Homo sapiens: one gene and its partners. The protein of the gene in region 3 interacts with the protein of the main gene of each other region in a biochemical or structural test. Each region holds a gene or a part of one and is shown on either strand. Other genes may lie near its edges.

Evidence for each region.
Region 1: the proteins of CUL4B (region 3) and BRWD3 form a complex in vitro, tested with the Homo sapiens proteins (one study listed by BioGRID).
Region 2: the proteins of CUL4B (region 3) and DCAF10 form a complex in vitro, tested with the Homo sapiens proteins (one study listed by BioGRID).
Region 4: the proteins of CUL4B (region 3) and KPNA1 form a complex in vitro, tested with the Homo sapiens proteins (one study listed by BioGRID).
Region 5: the proteins of CUL4B (region 3) and WDR1 form a complex in vitro, tested with the Homo sapiens proteins (one study listed by BioGRID).
Region 6: the proteins of CUL4B (region 3) and DET1 form a complex in vitro, tested with the Homo sapiens proteins (one study listed by BioGRID).
Region 7: the proteins of CUL4B (region 3) and MTA1 form a complex in vitro, tested with the Homo sapiens proteins (one study listed by BioGRID).

Annotation. Positions count from the first base shown.
Region 1 is NC_000023.11:80,680,878-80,684,377, forward strand, and holds part of BRWD3 (bromodomain and WD repeat-containing protein 3), read right to left. Parts: intron 3,286-3,500; coding exon 3,133-3,285; intron 1,752-3,132; coding exon 1,588-1,751; intron 1,218-1,587; coding exon 1,120-1,217; intron 623-1,119; coding exon 464-622; intron 1-463. UniProt on the Homo sapiens protein: Plays a role in the regulation of cell morphology and cytoskeletal organization. Required in the control of cell shape.
Region 2 is NC_000009.12:37,842,297-37,845,796, forward strand, and holds part of DCAF10 (DDB1- and CUL4-associated factor 10), read left to right. Parts: intron 1-3,500. UniProt on the Homo sapiens protein: May function as a substrate receptor for CUL4-DDB1 E3 ubiquitin-protein ligase complex.
Region 3 is NC_000023.11:120,540,463-120,543,962, forward strand, and holds part of CUL4B (cullin-4B), read right to left. Parts: intron 3,348-3,500; coding exon 3,265-3,347; intron 2,572-3,264; coding exon 2,504-2,571; intron 1,259-2,503; coding exon 1,140-1,258; intron 101-1,139; coding exon 1-100.
Region 4 is NC_000003.12:122,448,940-122,452,439, forward strand, and holds part of KPNA1 (importin subunit alpha-5), read right to left. Parts: intron 3,126-3,500; coding exon 3,037-3,125; intron 2,695-3,036; coding exon 2,595-2,694; intron 799-2,594; coding exon 635-798; intron 1-634. UniProt on the Homo sapiens protein: Functions in nuclear protein import as an adapter protein for nuclear receptor KPNB1. Binds specifically and directly to substrates containing either a simple or bipartite NLS motif.
Region 5 is NC_000004.12:10,110,300-10,113,799, forward strand, and holds part of WDR1 (WD repeat-containing protein 1), read right to left. Parts: intron 1-3,500.
Region 6 is NC_000015.10:88,533,182-88,536,681, forward strand, and holds part of DET1 (DET1 homolog), read right to left. Parts: intron 3,201-3,500; exon of another isoform or gene 3,154-3,200; coding exon of another isoform or gene 3,131-3,153; intron 1-3,130. UniProt on the Homo sapiens protein: Component of the E3 ubiquitin ligase DCX DET1-COP1 complex, which is required for ubiquitination and subsequent degradation of target proteins. The complex is involved in JUN ubiquitination and degradation.
Region 7 is NC_000014.9:105,464,827-105,468,027, reverse strand, and holds part of MTA1 (metastasis-associated protein MTA1), read right to left. Parts: coding exon 3,165-3,201; intron 2,935-3,164; coding exon 2,845-2,934; intron 1,603-2,844; coding exon 1,450-1,602; intron 1,322-1,449; coding exon 1,286-1,321; intron 1-1,285. UniProt on the Homo sapiens protein: Transcriptional coregulator which can act as both a transcriptional corepressor and coactivator. Acts as a component of the histone deacetylase NuRD complex which participates in the remodeling of chromatin.

The DNA of each region.
Region 1 (3,500 bases), about 40 Mb from region 3:
AGCTCACTGTAGTCTCCTACTCCTGGCTAAAGCGCTCCTCCCACCTCAGCTTCCCGAGTAGGTATGAGTTGTATGCCACCACATGTGGCTACTTTTTTTTTTTTTTTTTTTTTGTAGAGATTAGGTCTTGCTTTGTTGTCCAGGTTGATCTCGATCTCCTGGCCTCAAGTGATCCTCCCACCTCAGCTTCCTAAAGTGCTGGGATTACAGGTGTGAGCCACCACGCCTGGCCCCATTTTACGTTTTAAGACTAAAATACATTTGAAAATAGCTATTGGAAATCTGCTAATGGCCTGTTCCCAGTTATGAATATGAAATGCCATCTGACTCATATGTGACAGAATTCTCATTAACTATAAGGATATACTAGTTTTTAGTATGTCAACATGTCAGCTTTTAAATGATTTATCTGCTATCATAAAGAAATAAATAATAAATGTCTTGTCCTGTATTTATTTCCTACCTTGTTTAACTGGCAAAACTCTATTCCGAAATGATTTGGCTTTCCCTGGGTCATGGCTATTTCCACTTCGGCTATATCCACCGAAGCTCGATGAAGAAAATGGCCCATCTGGCTCATCATCAAGTAGATATAGTGAAAGCCCTTCAGCAGCATCTGAAACTTACATTTTAAAAGATTTTAATACTAACATAATTATCATGTTTTCAGGAAAGTTAAACAGGCTACTTTTTGAAACCATATCTCTGTTATTTTATTCTAACACCAAAATTATAAGTTTCTCTAAGAAAATGATATGAATATTTTGAGAACAAAGGGTTGAATGTCAGAAAAACTTGTCCAATTGCTCATCATAAATTTTCAAATATTATGTTGGTAAATATATTGTAGATAAGTGCTCTGAGATATTATAGGCATCATTTAATCATAAAATTTTAAAACTAAGAGACTTTTCATGTAGTCTAATAAAGAAAAGGAATCATATGGCCTAATGTCATACTCAGGGACACAAAACTAGCAAGTAGAATTGGGAATAAAGCACAACTTTTAAAAATCTAAATCCATTGTTCTTTGCACTATAAACCATGCTGCCTCTTCTATATCCTTAATATCAGAATTAAACCGAGATGCAGAACACCAAAAACAAAAGACATATTTACCAGGAGATGAGAAAGGAGAGCTAGTCCTGGCATGAGATACTGAGGTATTCTGGTCATTTTTAGGCTGCAACTTCATTTGTTTCTGCTTCCCTTTTGGACTAGAAGTAAAAATATGTAACAACGAGCATTTTTTTTTTTCTGTTAGCAACATATTATGATAGACAGTATGATACAAAGAGGTATCAAGGTCAGGTATTAGCTGGCCAAAGAAGAAATGCCCTAAAATTCATGAAATAGATAATTTGACAGTGAAACTTCAATCATTAAAATTTAAAAAAAGTTTCTGGGATAGTAAAACCCACATAAATAGTACTTTTGATTACTAACTCTACATAGGCATAAGAGTTTAGGAAACAAACAAAAAAAGACCTCTTGGGATCTCCCCAAATTATTCATAAACTTTCACAAATTAGGTAATACATACAAAATGCTTTGAGAACAAAAAATGTTGCATCAATGTAATGATACCTAGGTGCTCCACTACTAGATAATGAACTGCTGCTGCTTCTTAGACGTTTTCTGTACCGTGGCCTTCTCCTCTTCTGACTCTGGATTGCTGACTTATATTCAGAGATGATATTTTTGATATGACTTTCAAATAAGGCAGATAATCGCAGCATCATGCTATAGATCTGAGAAGGCAGAAATTATATAGTCTTAACTAGTTTTATATTTTAAAAAAAGGTATAAACATGCCTAGACCAATATTAAGCATCATCATTACAGACAAAATATCTGTTCACTTGAAAAATTCTTCTCAAATAACTAAAGTAAGATACCATTTTCACCTAAAATAAATGTTTTTCAAATATAGTATTCAATGTTCTAAAAGGTAGGGAAAAAAAGACTCTGATACAATGCAAGAGAGAATGTAAACTGAAACAGCATTCTAAAGGACAATATGCAGTCTGTACAAAAAAACCTTAAAGATACACACATCCTTTGGCTAGTAATTTTACTTCTGGGAATTTGTCCTAAGGAAATATCACAGAATTATATACATAAAAAATATATTCAATAATGTTAAAGATATTACCTATAGCATTATTCATGTAAAATGGATAACTGGAAACAACCTAAATCCCTAGCCAAAGAACACTGGTTAGTATAACATAAAACAACCACACAACAGAATACCATTAAAAACCTTGTTTTCAAAGAGTCATGAGATACAGGAAAACATTCATAACACTTAAGTAACAAAAAATGCTTCAAAATACGAAATCCACTATTTTAAAGAATTTATAAGCATATGTAGATATATGTGTTAATGTAGAAAATCCTGGAAGTAAACAGTAACTGTAAGTAAAAATAGGTGATAGGTTTCACAGGTGATTTTTGTTTTCTTCTTTATACTTCTGTGTTTCCCAAACTTTCTATAGAAAATGTTACTCTAGCAATCAGGATCAAGGGGGAGGGGGAAGCAAGTGTAAACAAATTATGTTTGCAGAAATTAGTGGAAATGCATTTTCCATAAAGTGGAAGTAGGCAAATATATATTTACTGTGCAACTGATTAAAAGCTAATCAGATACCAGTGATTTCAAAAGAAAAACTTGATTACTATTTTTCTATTCTCAATATACTTTAAGTTCTGACAAAAATAGGGAAGATATTAAATGTGAGTATAAATAAGCAGTTACAACTTCCCAAGATGGTTCATTATTTGTTAGAATAAATGGAACATACATGTTCAGAGCTAATAAAAATATTTCACATAAATCAACACTGTCAATCACCTTTCTATTTATTAAGTCACTTATTATATTAAAGTGTACTTAAATTACTACCTCTCCTCTCCTTGTTTTTTCTCTGGTACCTATAAATATTTATTACTAAAGAGTAAAGAGACAAATAAGAGAAAGGAAAAGGTGGTTAATTTCAGAATGACTGCTAAATGTATCTTTATGCATGCCTAACAAGCAATCCATGTTTCAAAAAAGATACTGAGGACCAATTTTCAGTAACTGGTTAAAGAAAACTGCCTGATAATTAACCCAACTAATAATCATACCCTTGACTTTTTATTAGAGGTATAAGCTTTGGAGTTGTTGAATATTTGGCGAACATCCTTATAAAATTCCAGAGGACTACCATAGTTTCCTGCTTCCAAAGTTTCTTTCACAGTGCTGAAGTCCACAGGAGTATCTATAACATCTTGATAATCCTACAAAGAAGAATGTGTTATTAAATACTGTATAGCAATATTAAGGAATACAATGGGACTAAAATTGGTATCACCTACTACGATCCACCATGAAATAAACACATTGCTTTTCAATGTGCCAACTACCTCCCCACAACCCCAAAACATCTTTTGGTGGCTCATAAAAACAGCATAAGTCTGTGGGAAAGCCTTAGCCCTCACACCACAGTAATAAC
Region 2 (3,500 bases), on a different chromosome or scaffold from region 3:
AGGAGACCATGTTAGGATTATGAACAAAAACATTTTTTTTAAAGATGGTGAACAAATTCAGTGTTCTGTCCTAGCCTCAAGAAGGAAACTGGCTTTAGGAAAAGCAACCAAAAAGTGATGATATATTTTGTTAATTGTACCTAGTCATATATTGCAACTAAAAATTTTGGGGAAAATTATACAGGAAGGAGACCAAGTAGTATAGTTAATGATGAAAACTGGCTTATAAAAAAAGAGTTTCCTGAATTTAAGGAAAAATATTTTTGTTATTTCTCCTGTGAAACTAAACTGTTTCTCACTTTTTCTTCCCTCAATTCTACATATATTTATTTTGCAATTTTTGTTCTTTGTTTTCATGCATTAAAAGAGTAGTTCTCATTTGGAATGGTACTGATCTCAAAGGGAATGTTTAGGAATAAAGCGTGGGGCAATTTTGGTTGTCACTATGGGGGAAGAGAACTATCTACTAGCATGTAGTCAGCAAGGACCAGAGTTTCTAAACCTCCTGCAGTACACAGGTCAGTGTGCACAGTGGACTAGTTGTCCCACCTAAAATGCCAGTTATGCCTCTGTTGTGCAACATTCCAACAAAATGTCTCCTTATAAAGAAATTGATATTTAAAGAGTTGAAGTTTGAAAAACAATTAAAATATGCCTGCTTTGCTAGCTATGGTGAAATGATAATATAGTAAACACACCATGATCATTTCTGTGTATATTTGTTTTTGTTGTTGTTTTTGAGACAGGGTCTCGCATTGTCACCCAGGCTGTAGTGCAGTGGTACAGTCACAGCTCACTGCAGACTGGATCTCCCAGGCTTAAGTGATCCTCCTGCCTCAGACTCCTGAGCAGCTAGGACTATAGGCATGAGCCACCATGCCCACCTAATTTTTTATTTTTTGTAGAGACGGGGTCTCGCTATGCTGCCCAGGCTGGTCTTGAACTCCTGGGCTCAAGTGATCCTCCTGCCTTAGCTCCCAAAATACAAGGATTACAGGCATGAGCCACTGTGTGTGGCCATCATTTTCGAAATATTCTTTTTAGAGGTCATATGTAAAAAGAGAGGGGCTATTCTTGGAGATTTCTAGCTACCCATACTCTTTGAGTGGAAGGCAAAAACTATTGGTTATCTTTAGACAAAGACAAGCATACCTACTAAATGAATTTGTTTACTAAAATTTAGAAATAAAATTTGAATAGAAATATAAATGTAACTTCCAAATTAGTAGAGGGTAAAAAACTAATAAAACATGATCAATCCCATAGAAGCAGAGAAGGGAAGGAAAAAAGATAATTATTTAAAAGAACAGGTAAATTAGGAAGCACAAAACTAGTCATATACTGCAACTAAAAAGTTGGAGAAAATTATACAGGAAGGAGACCAAGTTGTATAGTTCATGATGAAAACTAGCTTACAAAATAAATTTCCTTAATTTCAGGAAAAATATTTTTTGTTATTTCACAAAGCATAAAACTAGTAGGCAGATAACCTAAGCTTTAATCCAAATATTAATAACTGTGATAAACGTATATGGGCTAAACTGTCCAGTTAAAAATAGACAGTGTTAGATTAGATTAAAAATAAAACAGAACTGTATTTTCTTTGTAAGGGACACAGTTAAAACATACAAACCTAGAAAAGTTGAAAGTAAAAGGATGAGAAAAAACAAACAATTATACGTCAAAGACAAAACAGTTGTGGCTACATTAATAGCAAACAAAATAAAGTTTAAGACAAAAAGCATTACTGATAAAAAGGTACTATAACAAAAGATTAATTTCACTAAAATATAAAAGCTTGTATGCGCCTAAAAACATAGCATAAAACTATAAAAAGTAAAAGTGGACAGAATTACAAGAAAGAAGTGAGAAATCTCCATCTCAGTGGAAAATATTAACAGCATTCTCTCATTTACTTATCTAGATAAGATAGACAAAAATGGGCCGGGCATGGTGGCTCACGCCTGTAATCCCAGCACTTTGGGAGGCTGAGGTGGGCAGATCACTTGCGGTCAGGAGACCAGCCTGGCCAACATGGTGAAACTCCATCTCTACTAAAAATACAAAAATTAGGCCACGTGTGGTGGCTCACACCTGTAATCCCAGCACTTCGGAAGGCCGAGGTGGGTGGATCACCTGAGGTCAGGAGTTTGAGACCAGCCTGGCCAGCACGCAGAAACCCCATCTCTACTAAAAATACAAAAATTAGCCAGGCGTGGTGGCTGGCACCTGTAATCCCAGCTACTTGGGAGGCTGAGGCAGGAGAATCACTTGAACCCAGGAGGTAGAGGTTGCCGTGAGCCGAGGTTGTGCCACTGTACTCCAGCCTGGGCCACAGAGTCAGACTCTGTCTCAAAACAATAACAACAGCAACAACAAAAATAAATAAAACACAAAAATTAGCAGGGCCTAGTGGCACACGCCTGTAATCCCAGCTACTGAGGCAGGAGAATCGCTTGAACCTGGGAGGCAGAGGTGGCAGTGGGCCAGCCTGGGTGACAGAGTGAGATTCTGTCTCAAAAAAGAAAAATAACAACAACAACAAACAAAAATGGATAAGGCTGTGGAAGATTTAAATATTATTAATAAGCTTGATGTATTACACATATTTAGATTTCTGCTACCAACAACTAGTGAAAACATCCTCTGAAGCAAACTTAGAACCAGTACAAAAATTGAGCATGTACTGAACTACAAAGTAGGTTTCAGCTGGTACCAAAGAACTATTATCACACAAACCATTTTCCCTGTTCTTAGTATCATTTAGTTATTAATTAAAAATTCTCATGTTTAGAGACTTATAAACTCACTTTTAAATAATTTATGGATCAAAGAAGAAATCATACTGAAGACAGGTTGAAAATTGATGAACTAAGCATCTTACTCAAAAAACTGGAAAAAAGTAAAAGGATAAACCCGATGAAAGTAGATGTATGGAAATGATAAGTGTAAAAGCATAAAATTGATGATGTCAAAAATGAAAATATAATAGAGGATTTTTAAAAGCCTGCTCTTTGAAAAAAGCTAATTGAATAGGCAATTCTCTGGCAAGATTCATCAAGAGAAAAAAGACATAAATAACTAATATCAGCAATAAAAAGGAGACAACAATATAGAAGAAGATGATAGATGAGCTTTATCCCTATATACTTGAAAACTTTGATGAAATAGCCAGTTTACTAAAAAAATACACCTTAGCAAAACTGGCCAAGGAAGAAATAGAAAACCTGAAATAGACCTATTACTAGGACTAATATTTAGCCAATATGTACTGGTTCAGCTGAAGTACTGTTAAAAGATTGAACTTCTTCCATACCAATTCGTAAATAGGCACTGCCCTGAGTTACCCTCTGACACCCTCTGACTACCCAGGCCCCTCTTCTAGAGATACCTCCCACAAAACCTTCCCATGATTCAGCAGCAAAAGTCCCCCTTACACAATATGGCGATTCCAGGACCCTGTTCCAGCACAGCCATCTGCATCTATTCTGACTGGCAAG
Region 3 (3,500 bases):
AGATATCAATTATATGGTCAACCTTATCTTTAAAATCCAGCAATTCTTGAACCATGGTTTTATCTTTTTCAGGATTAATTACAATAGTGCTGCCAAATGCCTAAAACAAAAAATTACCACTTTTTACTGTAATCGAATTGTCTACAATGAAAACAATCCCCAAATCATATTTTAAGTGGCATATATATTTAAAGATCTTTAAAAAGTAAGATAAAGCTATTTTTAAGATGGAATCTTGCTATGTTGCCCAGGCTAGTCTGAAACTCCTAGGCTGAAAGGATCCTCCTGCCTCAGCCTCCCAAGTAGCTGGAGTTACAGGCATGTACCACTGCACCTGGCAAAATAAAGCTGATAGTGAAATGAGGACAAAAAAATAAAGTGCTAAATATCCACACTGTTAACCACTCATCTATAATCACAAAAATAGTAAGCAATGATCACTGGGCATATGATATCATAACAGGGTATTATTAGAAGCCTCTGGGATCTTTTCCTTATTTTTAAAGAAGTCAGCTTTCAACTTCCTTAAAATGGCAATCTGGCTTTAGTGTAAGATTGAAGAAAGGAAAGAAATTTGGGGTTCAAAGTCTTTTTCTACATTTACTGCTTTAAGTGGTAGAGACAGAAATTATGTCAGCCATCAATCAGGTTTTATAGCTGATATGCCACACAGCTACCATTCTCAGGTTGACTGTTCTCAAAATTCCCATTACTTTTTAAACAAATTTAAAATTCCCTTAAAAGAACTGGATCAAGTCCGGGTGTGGTGGCTCACGCCTGTAATCCCAGCACTTTGGGAGGCCAAGGCGGGTGGATCATTTGAGTTCAGGAGTTCAAGGCCAGCCTGACCAACATGGTGAAACCCCGTCTCTACTAAAAATACAAAATTAGCCAGGCATGGTGGTGCATGCCTGTAATCCTAGCTACTTGGGAGGCTGAGGCAGGAGAATCACTTGAACCTGGGAGGCAGAGGTTGCAGCGAGCTAAGATCGTGCCACCGCACTCCAGCCTGGGTGACGAGAGCAAAACTCTGTCTCAAAAAAAAAAAAATTGGATCAAACAAGAAATGCTTGCCAATATGCACTCTTGATGTGTAGATAAGCCATAAGAGAGAAAAATCACAGGTAAATTGTTAATACCTTGATATATTCGATCCACTGCTGCAAAAGAACCTGAACTCCACCTCGAACTCTACTGAAGAGCTGATACAGAAGAGACAAATCTTGAATTCGGTTTTCATCAAGGAGGTTATTTAAACCTGTATTTTAAAACATTTTGGCATTAAAATATAGTGAACAAAAAAGTGAACAAGATTATCAGACATTTTAATAAAATTTGAGTTATAATCATTATTGTGATACTGGTTTGAACTATGACTAGTCTGTATGTGAGTTGTAATGTAAGATTTCCTTTGAATTAAACCCAACCATCTTTCTGGGTAAAAACTAAATATAGAGACTTTAGTCGCTATAAAAATAAAAACAGGCCAGGCACGGTGGCTCACACCTGTAATCCCAGCACTTTGGGAGGCTGAGGCAGGAGGATCAATTGAAGCCAGGAGGTCAAGACCAGCCTGGGCACAACAGTAAGACCCCCTCCCCCTCTCTATTTTAATTCAAAAAGTTAAAAAAATTAAAAAGAAAAAGAAAAATGGTTAACTCCATAATGGTTTGTGCCATTTAGCATGATAGATTAGAGGCAAAAACAAACTTATAAAAACTGGCTTACATAAATATACATTATAAATACCTCATATATGTAGTAGCCATATTATGTACATAGTTATATTTCAGAATACTGGATATAGCCTGTGATATATCAAAAGCCATGCATAAATAGGTCAAATTTAAATGAGGCTCTAATAAATATTTGATTTCCAGGATGAAATAACAGTATAACTGCATTAAATTTCTAAATATATAAATTTTTATACAAAAGAAAATATTATTGGGGAGAAAGGTAAGGCTTTTACCTATTTGCGGCATTCTCAAAGTAAAATGTAGGGTATACTCTAAATTCACTTGGGATTAGAAGTGCTTGGTTTGACATGCCATGAACAACAAAAAACCCTCACCGCTTTAGTGTAAAAAGGAATACCTTTCCTTACTGAAAGCTTACATATTAAGTCAAGAATTTCCCACTTTTTTTCTTTTATTTTATTTAAAGAGACGAGAGTCTCACTATGTTGCCCAGGCTGACCTCAAACTCCTGGGCTGAAGCAATCCTCCTGCCTCAGCCTCTCAAGTAGCTGATACTACAGGCACATATCAACCACTGTTTTTTTATTGGTATTTGTGGATCCCTCTCTTCTAGTTCCTGTATCTTTCAGATAAGAAAACTGGCACCTCCAGGAAGTTTACTGTGATTAATAAGGATTGTGTCCATCCTCAGAAATGCAGCCACATGCTATCAAACTTTTAAAAGGGCAACATCTTTAAAAATTCCCTACTAGTTTGCCACTACCATTTAAAAAGCAATCTCTTATTTACAAATTGCCAATTACCTTTCTGAAGAATTGCTGTTAAGTGTTCACCTAGAAGTTGTTTTTCTACAGTAGCAATTAATGACTTCCTACAAGGAAAAAAAAAAAGGTTAGTATTATTGACGTTTGACTTCCAGAAAATGTAAAGCCTCTCCTGAGGGGGGAAAAAAATCAAATAGCTCATTTTATGTTGATTTCAAGATTCCTATCCTATGTATAAATTTATTGGTGCTCAGAGTTACTATACTTTATGCCTAAAAGAAAAAGACATAAAGGAACTGACAGGCAAAAATTTTAAAAAAACACTGCATATTTTAGAATTTGGTTTACATAACGAAATAAATATCTCCAAGACCTTGCTGTAGTCGGCTTTTTCCAAGTTTTGCTACTTTTATTAGGAAGGTAAAGAAGTACTACATACAGAGGCCCCTCGACTGGCAATATTAATACTTAGGAAAGCACAGAAATAGGGGAATCCACTGAATTTTAATTGGCCTGAAGAGTTTAAAGGTCACATCAGCCTCTAGTATTATTTCTAAATTACCTTCTAAACACACACACACACACACACACACACACACACACACACCCCTAATAATCGAATCCTTGGATGAAAACTAATTAACTAGGGAAAAGAATAACTTGAAGTTTGTATTATGAAAACAACTGTTAACACTTCAAATCACACCTGAAAACAGTTACTAACATGTTTAGGATGGCTAAAGTGCTGCAAGTGATTTAACGACAGTTTAAGACTATTAAATTCAGCATGTGGTACTTACTGGGTGGTCTGATCTAAGTAAGTAATAAGTCTGTCTGCTTCTTCTTCTAGACGTTTGTTAACATGATGTAGATATTCAGGAACCTACAAAGATAGTTTTTTACATTATTGTTTTCCTCCCCATAAATCATTCAGAAAATGTCAAGTCCAAAAGATCCTGGAAGTGGCCCTGTCAAATGTGACAGGGTAGAATCATATGTAAAAATTTATAGGTAGAGTTTATGATCCAGAATTCTG
Region 4 (3,500 bases), on a different chromosome or scaffold from region 3:
TTTTGTATTAATACATTATAACTATCTAATATATTCCAAATGTCATGTTTGCGACAATGTCTCTTTGCATCTACTTTGTACTTTAAATCTCCCATACCTTGTAACTGTACCATTTCTCCATTATGTTATCACTTTCATTTTTTTCTTCTGTAGTATCTAAAAATTTGATTAATACAGTCTCAAATTATTTATGTCACGAGTAAATCTTCCACTCCATTATCAAAAGCATCACGGAGATGATAAAGCAAAATAAGATTGAATTTCTGATACTTGTCTAAAATAAGCTCTAAATGAGACAGACAGATAAGGAATGACTATTTTAGTGGCAGTATGCCTTCTGATGTCCGGTGGTTGATCTCAGGCCATCCAGTATGAGCCTGGAACTACACATATCAGAGTTTTCCCAATGTTTCTGCTAAAGGCCTGCTAACAGCAGAGGACTAAGAGGTTCTCTATAAGCCTCAATAAAACAAGACAAACAGATCTGACATCAAAATAAACAAGTAACAAAAACAGTAGCCCAAAGCACAATAAATCAATTATCATGTACAATCCATTAATATTTAAGTATTAGCAGCTAGAAAACTAGTACCAAGGGAGAGAAAGTGGACACACTTTCTAAAAGATATCTTACATCAGCAGTTCCACAAGTCTCCTACATACTCCCGCATCGATGACCGCTTGAATTTTATCATTGGGTCCATCTGATAGATATGAGAGGGCCCAGCAGGCATCAGCCAGTACATCAGTGTCACTGACAAACAGCAACCAGGAAAGCACATTCAGACATGGAGAAACCTGTAAAAGGAAAATGATGATTATGAAATTCAATAGACTAAAAGCCAGAAGTGAGGTGAGATACTCAAGAAGGCAACCAGGCATGTACTTGGTGACTTCTAGGGTGATTTACACTTCTAAAGATGAAGCAGCAAGTACCTAAGTGGCATTTCCATCTTTGGCAATGTTGTCAGTGATCTTGCACTAATCTGTAGTCAAAGCCCAAGGAAAATAATTTCAGAGAGCAAAGTTTTATATACATCAATTCTTGGAGTAAGACTCCCTATCAAAACACATTCTTTGTGGACTAAACAGGTAAAGGAACTTTCACAAATGTGAAAACTAGGAAATTCTGTATTTTAGATACTTTGTTAAAGACCAAAAATGCTAAGGTTTTGTTCAGTGAAAAATGATTCCAAATTAAAAACAACTACAAAAATACCCATTTATTTTAATATCCAGAATCTGCAAGAAATTCAAATCAGCAAGAAAAAAAAATCCCATCAAAAAGTGGGCTAAGGACATGAACAGACAATTCTCAAAAGAAGATATACAAATAGCCAACAAACATATTAAAAAATGCAGCTGGGCGTGGTGGCTCACGCCTGTAATCCCAGCACTTTGGGAGGCTGAGGTGGGTGGATCACCTGAGGTCTGGAGTTCAAGACCAACCTGGCCAACATGGTGAAACCCCGTCTCTACTAAAAATACAAAAATTAGCCGGGTGTGGTGGTATGCGCCTGTAATCCCAGCTACTCGGGAGGCTGAGGCAGGAGAATCACTTGAACCTAGGAGGCAGAGGTTGCAGTGTGCCGAGACCGCGCCACTGCACTTCAGCCTGGGCAACAAGAGCAAAACTCCGTCTCAAAAAACCAAAAAACAAAAAATAGATGTTGGCATGAATGTGGTGAAAAGGGAACACTTTTACACTGTTGCTGGGAATGTAAACCAGTATAACCACTATGGAAAACAGTGTGGAGATTCCTTAAAGAACTAAAAGTATATCTACCATTTGATGCACCAGTCCCATTCCTGGGTATCTACCCAGAGGAAAAGAGGTCATTATAAGAAAAAGATACTTGTATACGCAGGTTTATAGCAGCACAATTCACAATTGCAAACACATGGAACCAGCCCAAATGCCCATCAATCAACAAGTAGATAAAGTCACTCAGGACTGGAAAACCAAACATCAGATGTTCTCATTCATAAGTGGGAGCTAAGCTATGAGGACGCAAAAGCGTAAGAATGATACAATGTACTTTGGGGACTCAGGGAGAAAGGGTCGGAGGTGGGTGAGAGATAAAGGACTACACACTGGGTACAGCGTACACTGCTTGGGTGTTGGGTGCACCAAAATCTCAGAAATCACCACTAAACAAGTAACTCATGTACCTAAACACCACCTGTTCCCCAAAAACCTATTGGAAAAAAAAAAAGAATCTCATGGACTCCCAGAGAACTCACAGACCACACTTTGAGAACCACTGTTTTAAGAGAACTGAAAGGATAGTCTCCTAAACAGTATACTAATTGTATGAAGCCTAATTTCAATAAGCTTTACAAATTCTTCCTTCATGCTATGCTTTATTTGCAGTCCCATCGTAAATGTGCACCTTCAAGCTATGCTCTAAATTTGCTTTTTAAATAATAAAGAGAACCAACAAAAACAACAACAACCCTGTTTCTCCAAAAACAGATAAAATTCTAACATTTTAAATTTTAACAAAAATTATCTTCCTGTTCACCTTACCATTGGTTGCAATACTCTTTTAATTGTATTTTTTCTGCCAATGTCCCAAAAGCATAGTCCTTACCTTTGCAAATTCTGGAGGTGGACTTTTCCCTCTACAGAGATTAGACAAAGCCCATACTGCATTCCGGGTCATGGTCAGGCGGTTTTGCTTTGAAAATAACCTAAAAGCACGATGGTACAATGGTAAACTATGTAACAGACAGTGATTATCTGATGACATAAATACTAAATAATAATACTTTTGATAAAGAGATGTCTTCAGATAGCTTTTCTCCAGAACATTAAAACTTCATTAATTCTGATGCAAGTAATTCAGAATTCAGAATTTTGGCATGGAAAAAGATAGGGTGCTTGAGGAAATGATCTAAACAAGAAAATATCTGGAATTAAAAATAACACTAGAAAATCCAAAATGATTTCCAAACATGTAATGCTTTCTGAGGAATCTCTTACATTTTTATTCTCAAAAAGAAAAAAAAAGGAAGAAGGAAGAAGAAACTTACTGCAAAAGAGGGGGAAGGATATTGCAGTCTAAGACATAGTCCCTGCACATGGTACTATCTCCAGCAATGTTGCCAAGAGCCCAGACTGCCTGTGAAAGAATCATTCATTAATAAAGGTTACATAGTTTAATTCCCTCATAATTCTTTCAGATGCCAGTATATCACAATAACACGTTCATCAGGGAGTCAAATGAAACAGTTGTAGGATTGGGGGAGGAAGATAAATAATATCCTAAAGTGTACAACAAACAGAAGGTATTCGGTTTATTAAAGGAAAGAACTAATTCATTTTTGTTTGTTTTTGTTTTTTGATACAGAATCTCGCTCTGTCACCCAGTATGGAGTGCAACACAGTGAAACTCCATCTCTACTAAAAATACAAAATTAGCCGGGTGTGGTGGCAGGCGCCTGTAATCCCAGCTGCTTGAGAGGCTGAGGCATGAGAACTGCTTGAACCTGACAGG
Region 5 (3,500 bases), on a different chromosome or scaffold from region 3:
GGGCCTTGCAGAAGGTGGAGGTCACTCTCCAAAGAAGCATCTCCAACTACTCTTGGGCAAGGCCATCTCTCCAGTAGTCTTACGCATGAGGCTAAACCTCTTCTCTTACCTCAAAGATGGCTTCAGTATCCCTCCCGTTACCTCCAACAGGGCAAGAAATGTACCAAAAGCAACACACAGGAGGCCACAGTGGGGCTGAGAGGACCCAGGTACACATGCTGTTTCCTGCCTGGTTTCTCCCCACCTCTGCCGTGTGTCTCAACGCTCCTCCTGGAGAACTCTTATTCATCCTTCAAGACCCAACTCAAATGTGGCACTTCTCCAGCAGCTGTCCCCGCTCTGTGGCACAGCTGGCTCCTCCCTCACATTCCCAGAGCACCCAGGGCATTGTTCTTTTGAAGCACTTAACCTGGTGCCTTCGAAGGTTCTTTACCAGAGTTTTCAACCTTGGTACCCCTGGCATTTGGGGCTGGACAGTTCTTTGTGGAAGGACGGCCATGTACCTTGTCGGATGTTTGGCCACAACCCTGACTTCAGATACCAGTGGCACAAAAATGTCTGCAAACGTTGCCAGATATCCCTCAGGGGAATGAGGTGGGGGAAATTACCCCTCCCTGAAAATCACTGATTTTAATCCTGGTCCTCTGTGGCTTAGGGTATGGCTTGCCAAGACAGGGGCTTAGTGAACATGTGTGGGAAACGTGAGAGCCAGAGATGGCTGCACCACGCAACGGAACCTGCGCTGACGCCGCCTTCATCTTTGAGCAGCTTCCTAATTGGCTTCCCTGCCTCAGATCTCAGATACAGAACTTCTCCTTACCGTAGGCTGGATCTGATTACTTGTCTGTGAGACCTCTGAATGGCTCCAGTGGCCTTCAGAGCAGGGCTGCGCTATGGTAGGGCTGTGTGAGCCACCTGCCACCACTGCACACCAGCACTTCTCAGCCTGGGTCCTGTCCACTCCCCTCACGCTCAGTGCCACAGTAACAGCCCATAAGCACCCGGCCCTTCGGTCCTCCCAGATGTGGTCCCATCTGCAGAAGCCCAGCGTCCTGACTGGCACCTGCAGCCACTCAGATTCTCCTGAGATGAAGGCCCCCCACCACCCTCTGCTTCCCCTGCCATCAGGTGGTCAGACTGAAGGCCTAGAGGTTCCTGGCTCTGCACCTGGCAGGCGCTGCTGCCAGCTCGTTTGCACCCAGGTGATAATCCAACGCACCACTTCCTTCTGCCACCTAGAGTTTATTTCACTCCCACCCAGGACAGTGAGCTCCATGTGGGCAGGGCCTCCATCCTGCACCCCCACAGGCCAATGGCCATCTGGATACACGCAGGTAGTCAGCAGGCGTCCAATTCCGGAGAAGCAGCTAGGTCAGTCCTCAAGCCCTCTGTCATGCCACCATTACCCCCAACCCGCAGGAAACACAGGTGAGTCCTCTGCATGTGAATGGTGGCAGCTCACACCAAGGGAAACCAAGAGTGAGCCCAATACCCTCCCCAACCCCCCACTTGGTCTGCCCCCTGTTCAAGGAGAAAAGTCCACTGATACTGCGCCTGGGTTCCCAGCAGTGTCAAATTGCTATAAACCTTGCACTCCCGGAAACTCAATTTTATAGACATCATTTTTCCAAATGTGTATTTTAGTTCTGGAATCTAGGAACTGGATACTTTAAAAACCAGGCCCCAAACTTGCCTGCATAGCAAATCTGCTGGCTGCCTGGCAGCACACAAGAGGGCCTCTGTTGTGAGGCAAAAGTTGCTTTTTTTTTTTCTTTTTCTAAACAGGGACTACTGGCACTACTGGCATTTTAGGCTGGGTAATTTTTATTGTAGGATGGTCCCGTGCCCTGTTTAGAATCACAAACAGGTTCGTTCACAGCCATTGGGGGTGACCCTTCCCAGTCTTTGCACAGAGGTCATAAGAGGCAGAGGTGATGCAGGCAGGGTAAGGAAACTTAGAAGGAACCACCCCAGACCTAAGGAGGTACCAGCACCTGCAGGAAGCCTTCCTTAGACCCCCGAAGCACAGACTATCCATCCCTTCTCCGTGGGGAACTAATGTCTCTCAAACACAGTGTACATATGGTTCACTGGAATCCCCTTCTTGGAGCTCTCTCCTTCTGGAATATTAGTTTCTACATGGCCACCATTATAGTCTTTCACTCTACAGAGGAGAGTTGCCTCTCCAGGTGAGGCAACGAGATGTGTTGAAATAAACAGGTAAGAAACACCCTTTTTCTACAAGTTTAAGAAGTGCCATTATGCTGGGTTCACAAAACAGCTTTTAAGTCAACAAAATAAATGACAGAGGGGGCTCCAAGTGCAAAGCTGGCAACGGTGCTCGCCTCTTAGGTATGAAAGGCGATTCCACAAAATTTAGGTCCGGCAATCTACACTGAGCTGAGCTTTCCTTGTTCTCATGCAGTAAGACCTCAGTGGCTGCCTATTATCTTCACGACACAGCCTGGTTTTCCAGGCTTTTTAATCAATGAGTAACTCACTGAGCACCTACTGTGTGCCAGACACTCTCTTAGGCGAGGACACGGCAGTGACTGAAAGAGAGGGGAAAGCCCTGCTGGCCTGGAGCTGATGCCCAGTTAGGGGGACAGGCAGATACCTATGTACACTTGTAGGCAGCCGTAGCCTGCTGCTTGTTAGCTTGCTTCCTACTTATTGTCAGCAATGAGAAAGACAGAAGGCCGGGGATGGAAAATTCTATTCCGGGGACACCCCTCTACTAAGGTGACTACATCTAAGTATAAACCAAAGGGAAAGGCCTAGTGTGGTGGCTCACGCCTGTATCCCAGGACTTTGGGAGGCCAAGGCGAGCGAGCAGATCACTTGAGGTTGGGAGTTCAAGATCAGCCTGGCCAACACGGCGAAACCCCGTTACCTACTAAAAAATACAAAAATTAGCCAGGTGAATTGGCACGTACCTGTAGTCCCCACTACTCGGGAGGCTGAGGCAGGAGATTTGCCTGAACCCGGCAGGTGGAGGTTGCAGTGACCCAAGATCACGCCACCGCACTCCAGCTTGGGCGACAGTAAGCCTCCACCTCAAATTAAAAAAGAAAAACCAAAGAGAAGACAGGGAGCAAGACTTGCAGCTATCTGAGAAAATGTCCAGGCAAAGGCAATAACTAGCAGGTACCAAGACAGATGTGTGGCATGTTCAAGAAGCAGCAAGGAGGCAAGAACGCTGGAGCCGAGGCCACGGTAAGGACTCTGGCTTTCACCGAGGTGGGAAGCCACTAGAGGCCTGTCTTGTGTTTCAGCCACTCCAGCGAGTGTTGTGAACAGACCCCCAGGGCAACAAGGGTGAAAGCAAGGAGACCTGTTTGGTTTTCGGGAGTCTGGGGGCAATAAGTCAGGTGGGGGAAGATAGCTTAGTCGTGGGTGGAGGCAGAGGAAGCCAGGGAAATCTGTTAGATTCTGAAGATACTTTGAATGTGGAGTCAGAAGGATTTACTAAAATTAAAATGTGGCGCAGTAGCGAAGCA
Region 6 (3,500 bases), on a different chromosome or scaffold from region 3:
GATGCTCAACATCACTAATCATCAGAGAAATGTAAATCAAAACTACAATGGGATATCACCTCACACCCATTAGAACGACTGCTTTTTTTAAAAAAAGAAAATGACAAGTTTCATTGAGGACATAGAGGAAGTTGAACCCTTGTGCATTGTTGGTGGAACTGAAAAATAGTACAGCTACTAAGGAAAACAGTATGAAGGTTCCTTGAAGAAAATTAGAACTACCATAAGATCCAACAATTCTACTTCTGGGTATAAATCCAAAATAACTGAAAGCAGGATTTCTAAGAGATATTTGCACACCCATGTTCATATCAGCGCTATTCATAGTAGTCAAGAGATGGAAGCAACCCAAAAGTTCACTGATGGATGAGTGGATAAACAAAATATGGTATATACACACAAAGGAATATTACTCGGCCTTCAAAAGGAAGAAAATTCTGACATATGCTACATCACTGAAACTTGAGGACATTATGTGAAGTCAAATAAGCCAATCACAAACAGACAAATACTGTATGATTCCACTTAAATGAAGTATCAAACGTAATCAAATTTAACAGCCAGGTGCCATAGCACACACCTGTAATCCCAGCTACTTGGGAGGCTGAGGTGGACCACTTGAGCCCAGGAGTTTGAGTCTAGCTTGGGCAACAGAGCAAGACCCAATCTCTAAAAAAAAAAAAAAAAAAAAAAAATTAATGTAAAATACTTATCATTAAAAAAAGAAAAAGGAATCAAATTCACAGAAACAAAGAAGAATGGTGGTCACCAGGGACTAGCAGGAGGGGAAAGAGAAGGTGCTGTTGAATGGGTTAGACTTTTCAGATTTTCAAGATGAAAAACTTCTCGAGATCAATTTCACAATGTGAATATACTTAATACTACTGAACTGTACACTTACAATCAGTTAAGACGGTAAATGTTAGGCTATTTTAAAATCACAATAAAAATATGTTTTAATATTTATGGGGCATCTATTATATGGCAAAGTCTTCTAATTGTTTTATTATACCTTGATTCAAATCAAAGTTAAATCACAGGCCATAAAAGTCAACGGCATTTAGTGAAAAACTTAAGTTATAAAGCTGTTGCCAGATAAGATGGAATAATCAAACACCACCTTCTCTCTCCCACTAAAAATGCAGCTATAAAACCTAGACAGAATGCATAAGACAGGCATATGAGAAAAACCAATTGGCTAACAATAAAGTACCACTGAATGGGCAGTGAGGTTAACATTGTCTCCCCTGGTTCTCCTGCTGCTTGAAGAGCAAGTGTGTTGCAAGGAAGGATAATTAAAGCCCCAATTTTGTCATCAGAGGATCAAAAGGGAGACCCCAGTGGAACCAGAAGGTACTGGGGAGATATCAGATGGGGAGGAGCTCAGAAAAGTAACATCATGAAGTTGTTCATGAACTCCCAAGCTGCACACGTGTGGATCTGGTCCAAATCATACTAAAGGCTTTGAGAACTGAAATAATCAACACCCAGATTGCAGACTGGCCACTGAATGTCACATACATGGGACAGATCCAAATAGCACTGCAAAGACTTTCTGAAAATTCATCTGCCATTAGAACCATAGCCTAAAGAGAGTTACAAATTGCAAATTCCCTGAAGCTAATTAGGTAGATTGCCTACCAAGCCAAAAATCACCAACATCCTCTTAGGATTTAAACAAGCCCTATCATCTTATAATATTCAAAATGTCTAGGAAACAATCCAAAATCATTCAGCATATGAAGTACTAGGAAAAAACTCAATCTAGAAAAGACAATTGACAGACACCAATGTTGAGATGCTACAAAAGTTGGAATTCTCTGAGACAGATTTTGAAGTACCTATTATAAAAATGTTCCAATAAGTAATCACAAACACTCTTGAAATGATGGAAAAACAAAGTCTCAGCTAAGAAACAGAAGATATTTCTTAAAGATCCAGATAAGAAGTTTAGAGCTGAAAAAGCAATAACCAGCATACAAAACTCTTCTAGCTTCCATAGACTCTAGTAAAATATCTTTTAAAAATTTAAAAACAATTCTGAAAAAGAATAAAAAACTCACTGATGGGCTCAAGGGCAGAATGAAGTCATCAGAGAAATGAGTCAGTCACCCTGAAGATAGATTAGTATACATTACCCAATGTGAACAAAAGAGGGAAAAAATAAAAAGACTGAAAAAAAGTCAGTAAAGCCTCAGGGCCCTAGGGAAAATATCAAAAGTTGTAACACCCTGATCTTGAGGAGTAGAATGCTAAGAAAAAAAAAAAAAATTAAGAAATAATGGCTGTAATAGTTGGTGGTGGTGGCACACATCCATAATCCCAGAACTTTGGGAGGCTGAGATGGGCAAATTGCTTGAGCCCAGGAGTTCAAGACCAGCCTGGGCATCATGGCAAAACCCCATCTCTACTAAAAATACAAAAAGTAGCCGGGCACAGTGGTGTGCACTTGTAGTCACAGCTACTCAGGAGGCTGAGGTGGGAGGATCACTTGAGCCTGGGAAGCAGAGGCTGAAGTGAGCTGAGATCATGCCACTGCACTCCAGCCTGGGCAATGCAGTGAGACTCTGTCAAAAGAAAGAAAAAAAGAAAGAAAGAAAGGAAGGAAGGGGAAAAAAAGAAAGATGAAAGAAAGGAAGGAAAGAAGAAAGGAAGGGAGAGAGGAAGGAAGCAAGGGAAGGAGGAAGGAAATTTCCCAAATTTGGCTAAAGATATAAACTCCAATTCAAAAGGTTCAGAGACCCCCCAAATTCAGGAAGTTCAGAGACCCTCAAATATGATAAATCCAAAGAAATCCATGCCCAGGCACATCATAGCTAAAATGGAAAAAACTAAAAGATATACAGTAAAAACCTCTAAAGTAACCAGATAGAAACCACGTATCACCTATAGAGGTGCAACAATTCAAATGTCTGTAGATTTCTCATCAGAAACCATGGAAGTTAGAAAGAAGTGGAACAACATTATTTAAGTGCTGAAAGATCTGCCTCTGTTTCATCATTCAAGTCTCAGCTAAAATAGTACCTCCTCAGAAATCTTCCCCAGGCACCTTACGTCTGCCCACATGAATTTACTGATACACCCTATATTATTAATGGTCTTTATCTCTTCCTGAAATTAAGTTGTTTACCTTTTTAGTATCTGTCCCACCATACCAGAGAGCAGGGAACTGGTCTAATTCCTTGCTGTATTCCCAGCACCTAGGAGAAGGGACAGTTAAGCGCTCATAAATATGTTAAAATAATTAATGGAGCAACAATTGGTATGAGCCTTGAAGAATAAGAATACACTAAACAAAGTAAAAGAGGAACAAACTGGCCGGGTGCAGTGGCTCACGCCTGTAATACCAGCACTTTGGGAGGCTGAGGCAGGGAGGTCACAAGGTCAGGAGTTCGAGACCAGCCTGGCCAACATAGTGAAACTCCATCTCTACTAAAAATACAAAAATTAGCTGGGCATGGTGGCGGGGACTCCAGCTACACAGGAGGCTGAGGCAGGAG
Region 7 (3,201 bases), on a different chromosome or scaffold from region 3:
GGCTGACCCCTCTGAGCCCAGGGCCCCGCCCAGCCAGGCGGCAAGGGGTGATGCTCCCTCACAAGCACTGCATGGCTGGGACTCACGTGTGAGGTGTGGAAAATTCAGTGGGAACAAATAAGCTTTTATGTAACTTGCTGGTTAACCGCTTTTTACAAAACAAAACAAAAAGCTCGAAGATGCCTGCTGACAAGGACTCCCTCCTGTTTCTACCAGCTCTTATGGGGCTGTTCCTGGGACGCCCTGCCATTAGGAACAGACAAGTAAAGCCAGCCCAGAGTGGGCTGGCCCTGGGCCCAGGACTAGGCAATGGGGGCAGCCCCAATACCAGATGGCTGGGAGGGTGCCCCAGGAAAGGAGGGCTGGGGCTGGGGCCGAGACACAGACACCGCCAAGGGATGTCGGGAGGAAGCTGCAAGGACAGGCCAGGGGTGCGTGTCCAGACAGGTGGAGATGGGGGGCCCGGCACCCGATCTCAGGCCCACCCTGCGCTGCAGCCGGCGTGCTGACCCCACAGGACGTGCCTGCCAGGACACCCAGCAGCCTCGAGAGAATGCCCCAAGGGGACAGGGTTGGCTGGGCTGGGCAGCCACTACCCATATCCACCTCCAGGTCGCCAAACCGGCCCTGCTGCCCTGGCCAGCACCGTCAGTGAAAGCCGCCTGGCGAAGGGGCTCCAGGCACATCCACACTGGCAGGCCCAGCACTTGCACACCCGGGCCCCACACACCTGGCCTCCTCATGCTAGGCTTGGTCCTATCTGCTCTTCCCCAAGGGGCCTGGGGTCCCGCAGCCCCTGCTCCAAGCAACCGGCACAGAGCACCTGAGCCAGTCCTCCGACAGAAGGCACCCATGTGTACAAGCTCAGTTGCCCACGGCCCACACAGACACCCCCGACCACCCTCCCCACTGTCCCGCCTGGCAGGCGCACGGAAGGATTGCAGGCACAGCACGGGCGGCCCCACGAGCTGAGGCTGGCAGCATGCGGGCAGTCACAGCGCGATGGCAGACAGCGCAGGCAGGGGCGCCAGGGCCACACGTGCCAGGACAGTCCACTGACAGGAGGCGGGGCCAGGGGGCCGAGGGCCAGATGCCTGGGCTCGGGGGGTCTTCACCAAGGGACCAGTGATGTCGGGAGGAATGTGGGGAACTGGGCTGTGGCCTGGCTCACGTGGACTGCCCCAAGCATGGGCCCTGGGCCGCCCGCCGCGGGGACACAGAGCAGCACAGCACAGGCATCACGGGCGGGGCCGGCGCAGCGCCCGCCCGCGGCTCCAGGCCTTACCCCTACTGGGCATCAAGAGGCGCTTCTTCATGTTGCCTGGCAGCGCCGGGGTGGGAGAGAGGGAGAGAAGACAGCGTCAGCACGCACGGCGGGTGCCCGGGCGGGGACGGGCCGGACTCACCGGGCGGGGAGGGCCACACTCACCGGGCGGGGGGGCCACTCACCGTCCACCCCGTTGTGCTGCTCGTAGCTGCGCTTGCCCAGGATGGTGGGGGAGCCGTTGTTGATGACGGGGGCCACCTTGGCGGGCGTCAGGCTGCTGAGCACGCTGGACACGCTTTTCACGGGGTCAGGCTTGGGGGGGCGGGGGTGGGTCTCTGCCGGGAATGACACAGGCAGAACGAGTTGCCTCTGCCCAGCAGGGGAGGGGCAGGCAGGCCCAGGCTCCAGCCCTCATGGTTCCGGGATACCCCCAGGAACTAAGCCCCATGCGGCCCCCACCCGAGGCCCCATCCTGACTGGGCTGGAAGTGGGGAGGTCACCACAGAACCAGAAGCCCAGAAGCCCTCGGCAAGGCGTGTGCCCGGGCCAGTCCCGCACCCCAGGGCTTCCAGAGAGCAGGGAGACCACCTGGCGGGGGCCAGGCCCCTCAGCCCCGGGACAACAGGATCCATACACAGGCCCGTGAGCACAGCACGCCTATTAAACAGCCCCCACGTCCAGGCCCCCGGAGCTGCTGGTGGAGGGCTGGCTGCTCGTCAGACAGCGAACCAACCATCCAGCCAGCCTGGCCAGGGACACAGCTGCTGAGGACCAGCCCTGACACCAGCCACCTCTTCCCACAGGACAGGGGCCACAACCCCAAACAGGGAGCAATGCCAAAGCCACTTGAATCTCAGAGCACACTTGGCTCATGACTCTGGAATGTCCTTCTCAGGACAGTCACCCTGTGTCGGGAGGGCAGATGCACAAGCCCACTCGAGCCCAGCAAATGGAGGAGGCCCCCCACCGCCACCACAAATGTCTGGCCCAGCCACCAAGCTGCTTCCAGCTGGGCCAGGGTAGCCGGCTGAGGTTCTCGGGTGTCCTCAGATGCTCAAAGGCAAAGGAACCCCCTGCCGCCTGAGGCTGCTCCTCCCCCTGCCGAGGGCGTGCAGAGGCCTGAGTGCTGCCCCTGTGGAGTGGGCGTGGCTCAGGAAGTATACTCCCTGCAGGCAGCAGGTACGACGCTGCCTTAATGGTATTACAGGCAGGGGTGTGCACCACCTAAACCCCAGACCCTCAGGCCCCAGGGACGATCAGAACACAGGGAACAGGGTAGCGAGACTGGCAGGGAAGCCCCCGGGTGTGCCTTGAGGAGGCTGGCCCCGCAGAAGACAGGGCGGCCGCTACTCCGCACTGGGCCCCATCACGACCCCAGGAGCAGGGAGCAGCCTGGGTCCCAGTGGGTCTGCCTGAGCCTGGCACGGTGCAGAGTACCCCAAAAGGACAGTTCCAGGCCCTGGGGGGCTGTCCAGGAGCTCCCAGCTAGAGAAGGCTGGGAGCACCAGTGCATGAGCTTGGGTGAGAAGCTGCCTGCAGGCAGCATTGGGAGCCCCCCAGCACGCCTGGCTGCTCACCAAGATACCGAAGCACGGCTTCCAGCGGCTTGCGTACCGCCTGCTTCAGCACCAGCGGGCTCTGGGAGGCTTCGGGCAGCCGCGCCGTGCCTGCGGGGTACCACACGGTGTGAGGGGTGGGGCACCCCCAGGGGAGCACGGGACCCTGCCTGCGCCTTGACCTGGGAGCCCTCACTGGGCTCGGCCATGTCAGCACCGAGGAGGACGTGGGGCTCCCTGAGATCAGAACTCCCAGTGGGGCTACAGGCTGGGCCCCAAGGTTGCTGCTCTCTCCCCACCACCCGCAGGAACAGAGTAAGCGGGGCGTTGGGGTGACTCACACTCGGCCTTGATGGCCGCGCTGTTGATGGGCAGGTA